Linked DNA regions of Homo sapiens. The protein of the gene in region 2 purifies or fractionates together with the protein of the main gene of each other region. This does not show direct contact. Each region holds a gene or a part of one and is shown on either strand. Other genes may lie near its edges.

Evidence for each region. Proteins that work in one complex are often made in the same cells at the same time.
Region 1: the proteins of PNLIP (region 2) and LMF1 purify together in Homo sapiens (affinity purification with western blotting, with the first as the bait; one study listed by BioGRID). This does not show direct contact.

Annotation. Positions count from the first base shown.
Region 1 is NC_000016.10:960,985-964,484, reverse strand, and holds part of LMF1 (lipase maturation factor 1), read left to right. Parts: intron 1-3,500. UniProt on the Homo sapiens protein: Involved in the maturation of specific proteins in the endoplasmic reticulum. Required for maturation and transport of active lipoprotein lipase (LPL) through the secretory pathway. Each LMF1 molecule chaperones 50 or more molecules of LPL.
Region 2 is NC_000010.11:116,544,440-116,548,730, reverse strand, and holds the start of PNLIP (pancreatic triacylglycerol lipase precursor), read right to left. Parts: upstream 2,801-4,291; 5' UTR 2,773-2,800; intron 2,639-2,772; coding exon 2,593-2,638; intron 1,438-2,592; coding exon 1,283-1,437; intron 372-1,282; coding exon 249-371; intron 1-248. UniProt on the Homo sapiens protein: Plays an important role in fat metabolism.

The sequences.
Region 1 (3,500 bases), on a different chromosome or scaffold from region 2:
GCACATCCCTTAAAGAAAAAATACTTGAGGTCACTGTGCTGAGGCCCAGAATTTAACCACGGCCAGTAAGAACCATCAACAGAGAACGGCATTTCTGGGATGACTGTTTTAATCTTACAACAATTTATCTGAAAGGAGAAAAGAGAAAGCTGATTTTTTTTTTCTGATTCTTTTTTTTTTTTTTTTTTTGAGACAGAGTTTCACTTTTTCGCCCAGGCTGCAGTGCAGTGGTGCAATCTCCTCTCACTACAACCTCCGCCTTCCGATTTCAAGAGATTCTCCTGCCTCAGCCTCCCGAGTAGCTGGGGCTACGGGCACAGGCTGCCACGCCCAGCTATTTCTTTCTGATTCTGAAACAAAGTATTTATCGGCCATGCCTGCTGTTGGCTGCTCGGGCGACACGGTATTTCCTCGGTATTTCCTCGTTGCAGCTCCCAGGTCAGGCTCTGGGTCCCTGTGAGAGGCGGGTGGCCGCCATGGCTCTGCTGCCTCCCGTGTGGGGTAGTGACGGGGCCTTCCGAAGCTTGACTGCTTGGTTAGTTTTGTTTTGAGAGCCTGTGATGTTTCAAGATTTTTACTGCATCTTTTTATGTAGCTATTTTTATAACATGAGTAGAGGTTGAAATAGTTTTTTTCTCTCTGAAATCTCAATTCAGTCTGTCTTCCTTTTTCCTGATAAGCAGGAAGCATCCTATGCTTCTTGCCTTAGAATTACTGATTTAGGCTATTGCTTTGGTGAGGCCACATCTTGTTTTCCTCTGTGGTCCTGGAGTTTGCGTTGTGGTGAGGGGTGGAGCACATCCACCCTTCAGCTAGCGCCAATTAGGTCCCTGTGGGAAAGGGGCCCCAGCCTAGCACCAATGAAGGCTGGGCCCTGGAGTGTGCAGTGGCTGAACAGTCACAACCTGTGTTTCTCCCACCTGCATACATGCCAGGACATACACACATGCATCCCTGCACACGCACACATACATGTGTACATGTGCACACGTGTACAGAGACATGCATACACCCGTGCACACATGGACACAGGGCATCCATGCACAGGTGCACATGTATACATGTGCACATGTGTACAGACACATACACACAGGGACACATGGGCATGTCATACCCATATGCACACACACTGGCCTGAGCTGTGGAAGCTGCTGGTGCGGTCCCTGCACGTGTGGCCGCCGGGGCTGAGGGCCTACCGCGAGGTGTCCTCTATGTTGCTAGGAGGTCAGCGCTCACAGCTCAGGTCCCTTCCACCCAGTGGTGGAGGCAGTAGGGGTGTGGGGAGCCTTCTGCTGCAGCCCTGTTTCCCGCCCTGCGACCCACCCCGAGTCCCCTCTGTGTCCCACCTCATGTCCACCCTGTGTCCAGCCTTGTGTCCAGTCTGTGTCCCGCCCTGTGTCTGCCCTTTGTTTACCCTGTGTCCATCCCGTGCCCGCCTGTGTCCACCCTCTTCCTCCTCACTTGGAGCTGCCCCCACCCACCTGCCGTCGCAGCCCCTTTAGAGGTCACCAGCCCTGACCCTTTCGTCGCCCAGGGCCCTGCGGTGCTCTGCCTGTGGCCCTGCTCCCACTGCCTTGGAGGGAGGCTGCTCACAGCGCTTCATGCCGGGCACTGAGTGGTGCAGAGTCTTCGAGAAACCTTTACTTTTTAAAATTTTTTTATTAAAAATAAAACTATTAACTGAAACTGCAGACTCTATGGCTTTTCCACCCGTGCCTGTTCCGTTCTGGGACCCGGTTTTGTCCTGGCGTCTCCTCCCTCCCTCCCTGGTCTGTGAGTCTCCCAGACTTTCCTGTGCAGGATTCCGACCTTGACAGTGTCAAGCAGGCCTGTCATGGCGTCTGTAGAGCGTCCCTCACGTTGGGTCCGTCTGGTGTTTCCTCGCAATTAGACTGGGTGATGGGTTTTGGGAAGACGCCCACAGAGGTGCGGGGCCCTTCCCGTCACACCGTATCAGGGTCCTGACGTCCGCACGGCTTTCTGATCACCCGGCCAAGGTCTGCCTGCCAGGTGTGCCCTCTGACAGGTCCCTGCTTTCCCGCCCGCTCTGTCCTCTGGAAGCCGCTCACTGGGTCCAGCCCCCGCCTCCTGAAGGGAGTGTCTGCGGACATTATGTGGAATTCCTCTGTGAGGAAGATCTTGTTACTTACTTGTTTGTGGTCACTGATTTTGTCACTATGGACCCACGCCCATTTATTTTCCCTCTGGGTCGTGATCCCGTGCTGTCACCGTGAGTCTGTGTCTGGGTCGTGATCCCATGCTGTCACCGTGAGTCTGTGTCTGGGTCGTGATCCCGTGCTGTCACCGTGAGTCTGTGTCTGGGTCGTGATCCCGTGCTGTCACCGTGAGTCTGTGTCTGGGTCGTGATCCCGTGCTGTCACCGTGAGTCTGTGTCTGGGTCGTGATCCCGTGCTGTCACCGTGAGTCTGTGTCTGGGTCGTGATCCCGTGCTGTCACCGTGAGTCTGTCTGGGTGGTGATCCCGTGCTGTCACCGTGAGTCTGTGTCTGGGTCGTGATCCCGTGCTGTCACCGTGAGTCTGTGTCTGGGTCGTGATCCCGTGCTGTCACCGTGAGTCTGTGTCTGGGTCGTGATCCCGTGCTGTCACCGTGAGTCTGTGTCTGGGTCGTGATCCCGTGCTGTCACCGTGAGTCTGTCTGGGTCGTGATCCCGTGCTGTCACCGTGAGTCTGTGTCTGGGTCGTGATCCCGTGCTGTCACCGTGAGTCTGTGTCTGGGTCGTGATCCCGTGCTGTCACCGTGAGTCTGTGTCTGGGTCGTGATCCCGTGCTGTCACCGTGAGTCTGTGTCTGGGTCGTGATCCCGTGCTGTCACCGTGAGTCTGTGTCTGGGTCGTGATCCCGTGCTGTCACCGTGAGTCTGTGTCTGGGTCGTGATCCCGTGCTGTCACCGTGAGTCTGTCTGGGTCGTGATCCCGTGCTGTCACCGTGAGTCTGTGTCTGGGTCGTGATCCCGTGCTGTCACCGTGAGTCTGTGTCTGGGTCGTGATCCCGTGCTGTCACCGTGAGTCTGTGTCTGGGTCGTGATCCCGTGCTGTCACCGTGAGTCTGTGTCTGGGTCGTGATCCCGTGCTGTCACCGTGAGTCTGTGTCTGGGTCGTGATCCCGTGCTGTCACCGTGAGTCTGTGTCTGGGTCGTGATCCCGTGCTGTCACCGTGAGTCTGTCTGGGTCGTGATCCCGTGCTGTCACCGTGAGTCTGTGTCTGGGTCGTGATCCCGTGCTGTCACCGTGAGTCTGTGTCTGGGTCGTGATCCCGTGCTGTCACCGTGAGTCTGTGTCTGGGTCGTGATCCCGTGCTGTCACCGTGAGTCTGTCTGGGTCGTGATCCCGTGCTGTCACCGTGAGTCTGTCTGGGTCGTGATCCCGTGCTGTCACCGTGAGTCTGTGTCTGGGTCGTGATCCCGTGCTGTCACCGTGAGTCTGTGTCTGGGTCGTGATCCCGTGCTGTCACCGTGAGTCTGTCTGGGTCGTGATCCCGTG
Region 2 (4,291 bases):
ATATCAGTTATTAAATAACCACTGCCTAGATCCACCAAGTGCTTGCCAGCCTCACTGCTCTGACCATCCTAAACCCCCTCTTCCCACCACCACCTCCTTGACCTCCCCTAGGAACTCCAGGCCCAGCAGGGGTCTGAATATCCTCCAAGACCTCCAAGCACTGTCCTCATTGGTCGGGGCCAGTGCCTTACCGTTTGTTAATTACCACTTTGGAAACGATCTTTCCTTGAGAGATGACCACATCTCACCTTGCACACATTGGCCAGCCAGTTTTCTTCTCCCTTGTCTATGAATCCATGAATAATAAAGCGAGTTTTTCTATTTGTTTTGAAATTGGAGCCACTGATGCTTGATGAATCTGCGGCAACTTCCTGTTTAGACAGAAAAGTGTTTCATGTCAGTTTCCTATAGTAGCCAATAGAACCATTTGTACATGGAGAGGGGCAGTAAGTAGAAGACTGCTAGGATTCAGGATCCTTGTGAATAATGATTCCTCCATAGCAACCACAGTATTCACTATCATCATCATGTTGCCATTTCCCAGTCATCACAACATGTTTGCCATTGTTCAACTTGGGATAATATGTCTGTTATAATCTTGGTGGTAATGATCTTTTCTTCATACAATGGAAGGCTTTGTGTGTGTGTGTGTGCGTGTGTGTATTTTTATATGTCTTTATCTATGTAGAGATACATATATATAATAGGAGATTACATAAATATATAATATTGGGAATGTTTATATACTTTATATGTATAAATATAGCCCTACATTTACAATATTTATTAAATGTTATAGAGGAAGGACAAGAATAATATGAAGTTAATGAATCTTTTATAAACAATTTACATTAAGTAATACCTAAGCTCAGTGCCCTGAATATCTACAAAGATGCAAATTTCACGGCTGATTTTTTTCTCTTAAGAACTTGAATATTCAGTATCCTTATTACAGAAAACAGGTGGAACTTGGTTCTTCTTCTTTTTTTTTTTTTTTTTTTTTTTGAGATGGAGTCTCACTGTGTCGCCCAGGCTGGAGTGCAGTGGCGCGATCTCGGCTTACTGCAAGCTCTGCCTCCCGGGTTCACGCCATCCTCCTGCTTCAGTTTCCCGAGTAGCTGGGACTACAGGCGCCTGCCACCACGCCTGGCTAATTGTTTGTATTTTTAGTAGAGATGGGGTTTCACCATGTTAGCCAGCATGGTCTCGATCTCCTGACCTCGTGAACCGCCCGCCTCGGCCTCCCAAAGAACTTAGTTCTAAACACAGTGATAGTTCTTACTTGAAAGTTGTTTGGGTTCTCATTAGTATATAGGAGGAAGCGGGTGTTGACATCTTTTGGAGACCAAGGCAATATATGGAGGGGTCTTTCCGTAATTCCTGACCATGGGGAGTCATCACTGAAGCAGCCGAGTCTTTCGTAGCAAACTTCTTTTCCTGCAATCCCCCAGAAGGATATTAGTTTTACAAACATGCTCTTTTTAATGATCTGTCTGCCAATATATGAGTTCAATTACACTGTGTGGTAGACTTTCCTCCTCTGCTACTCTCAACACCCTCCTAGCCACACACTCACAAAACAGCTTCAAAAGACAACACAACTATTCCAGACAGGCTGTTGTTCTTGTTCCTCAATTCTACCACATGGATCACTTCACTCCCCTTGTGTCTCTGCCCAATCCCAACGTGGGACTCCTTTTAGCCTCTAAACTCAGATATCTTCCTTGGGCTATAGGTGCTCAAGAAAGGGACAGCCCTGTGTCCCTAAGCCTTAACTTCTTGTAGCCACTGTTTAGCTGTGGGCTTTGAAAGGAGAGCTAAAATTTTATGGAAAGGCCAAAACCGTATATCCCCATCCTTGCTGTACTGCAGGACATCTTCATTCCTGTGATGAAGAAGCTGTTCACAAACAACCAAACCAAAAATCCATGGTTTAACACAACTCTAGGCTTGAATGTCACTCCATAAAAAAATAACCCAAAGAAGGGTTCTCTTCTCTAAGGAGGATAAATCTAGATTAATGGTAGGAGTAAGAGTAGCAGCTGTTGTGGGGGCTGCGTTTCTCAACATCTTACCATGTGTCAGGTGCTGGGTTGGATGGTTTACTAATCTGACCTAATTCTCACAATAATCCTAGGAGATGGGGAATCCGACTCTCCCCATTTTGCAGACAAAGATTCTGAAGCACAGAAGAGTTAAGAATTTTGCTCAGGGTAATACAGTTGTAGGTGGTGGTGGAGCCAAGGTTCAAACTCTTAACTTGACTTGATGTCAGGGTTGCTAGATTTAGCAAATCAAAATACAAGTAAATTTGAATTTCAGATAAATGATAATGTTTTAGTATAGATATGTCACATATTTGTTGTTTGTGGGAAATATTTGCTGTTTATCTGAAATTCAAATTTAACTGGGCATCTTAGATGTTTTCTGACAACCCTACTCCATGTACCTGTGCTCTTATGCGTCTCCTGTGCTTTACTCCTTGAAGTAAATCTTCATGTTATTACTGCGGCCTGAATTCAGCTGCCCTAGCCCTCCTGACCGTGTTGAAAAGTGAATCTCTCCCAGCTCAACATTTATTTGTTTTCTTACCTGCTACTGCTCCCAGCAGCAGTGAAAGAGTCCAAAGTGGCAGCATCTACACGAAATTAAAAACATGATTGAGTCTGGCTAAGTTTTTAAAAGATCGGCAAGTTTTAGTTCATTTAGACCTCTGGGGGAAAATGGATACATTCTGATCAATTAGGCCTGGAAAACATGTTCCCGACTCACCGTGGCAGTTCCGTCAGGTTCCACACGCAACCAGATAGCAACAAAAACTCCTTTTATAGGCGAAGCTTATCTTTTTGAAACCGTGGAAAAATGGCATGCAAAGAAAGGCCCAAGGATGTGTTTCTAATTTTAATCATAGATAAACTAAGGTTGACAGAGTAAAGTTTTCCATAGTAGTTGTGGGATGATGAGAAAGGGGGTAGATATGTGATTATGTAAAGCTCAAAACCACTTTAATTTCATTATAGTAAAGGTTCTATATAGTAAAGGTTCTAGTCTTTCTGTCTCTTTTTAAGTTCACAATTCTCTGTGCCTGTCTGTGGGCATGTGTGAAATTAAATTGTTTTCACAGATTTGATAACAGCAGTCTTAAAAACAAATACCAGCAGCCTACCAGCTCTTGCCATTTTTGTATAACCTTGCCTTACCCTCAAAAACAGTGAAATAGAAGCAATCCTTCAAGAGAGCTCATACCTTCTGGAAAAGCATTTGATTAATTTTGATAGTCCATAGAACTGATTTATTTCTCAACAATGTCATGGAGGAAAGAATAAACAAGCTAAGAAAAGGAATTGGAGGTACAGCCGAAAGCATAGAGGCAGAATCACTGACCCCACTATCAGATGAAATGATGAATAAGCAGAAAAAATATGACTCAACTTGGAAGAAAATGGTTTAGAAAAAATAATCTGAAAGAGAATTGTTTGATGGAAAATAACTGGGATGTTTTCAGTTAATGATGGATTGCTTACAATAAATGTTAAAAAGAGTACAATGTGATACCATAATTTTAAGAGACCAGAACCTTTTAGCCTGAAAGTGTCACAGCTATACACTGAGTTGTTGAAATTGTCACATTCGTAGGTCAAAAGTGGTCAAAAATAATTCAATCCCCTGGAAAAGTTTATAGGTATAGAGAAAAGCAACAGAATTATCGTGTACAAGGGAAGTTCAAGGAAGTTTGGCAAGGGAATTGTTAAGATAAAGACAGAAGGCACAAGGAAGGATCCATGGATGGACACCATGGCAAATTCCTACCTAATCTTTCAAATATCAGCCTTTCATCCCCTCCTCAGGCAATCTTCCCCAGCCATGGTTAAGCTGGTTCCCTTGTTCCCTCTAAGGAAGGTTCTTTTTAGAACTTCTCTCACTTAAGACTGATCATTTGTATATTATAAACTCAGAGAAGGCTGGAATGCTCAGGGCCTTGTTGTCACATCCTAGCACCTAGCCCAGTGCTTGATACACAGCAGGCCTTCAAAACATCTCTGATGGATGATTGAACAAATGGAATGAATATGAAAAGCAAAGCAATTTATTTTGCATAATGGCTGCAATAATAATTGTCTCCACAGTCTCATAAGTAAAAAGCTGTTGAAATTTCTTTTATTCAAAACATGTGGAAAAAAAAATCCAGAAGCCTCTAAAAACAGAAGTCTTGCATCTCTCTAGTATTTAGTGATGGTAATGCTACATTGATCTCAGAGTCATATCCTATGACAGTCATTGTTTCCTCTGG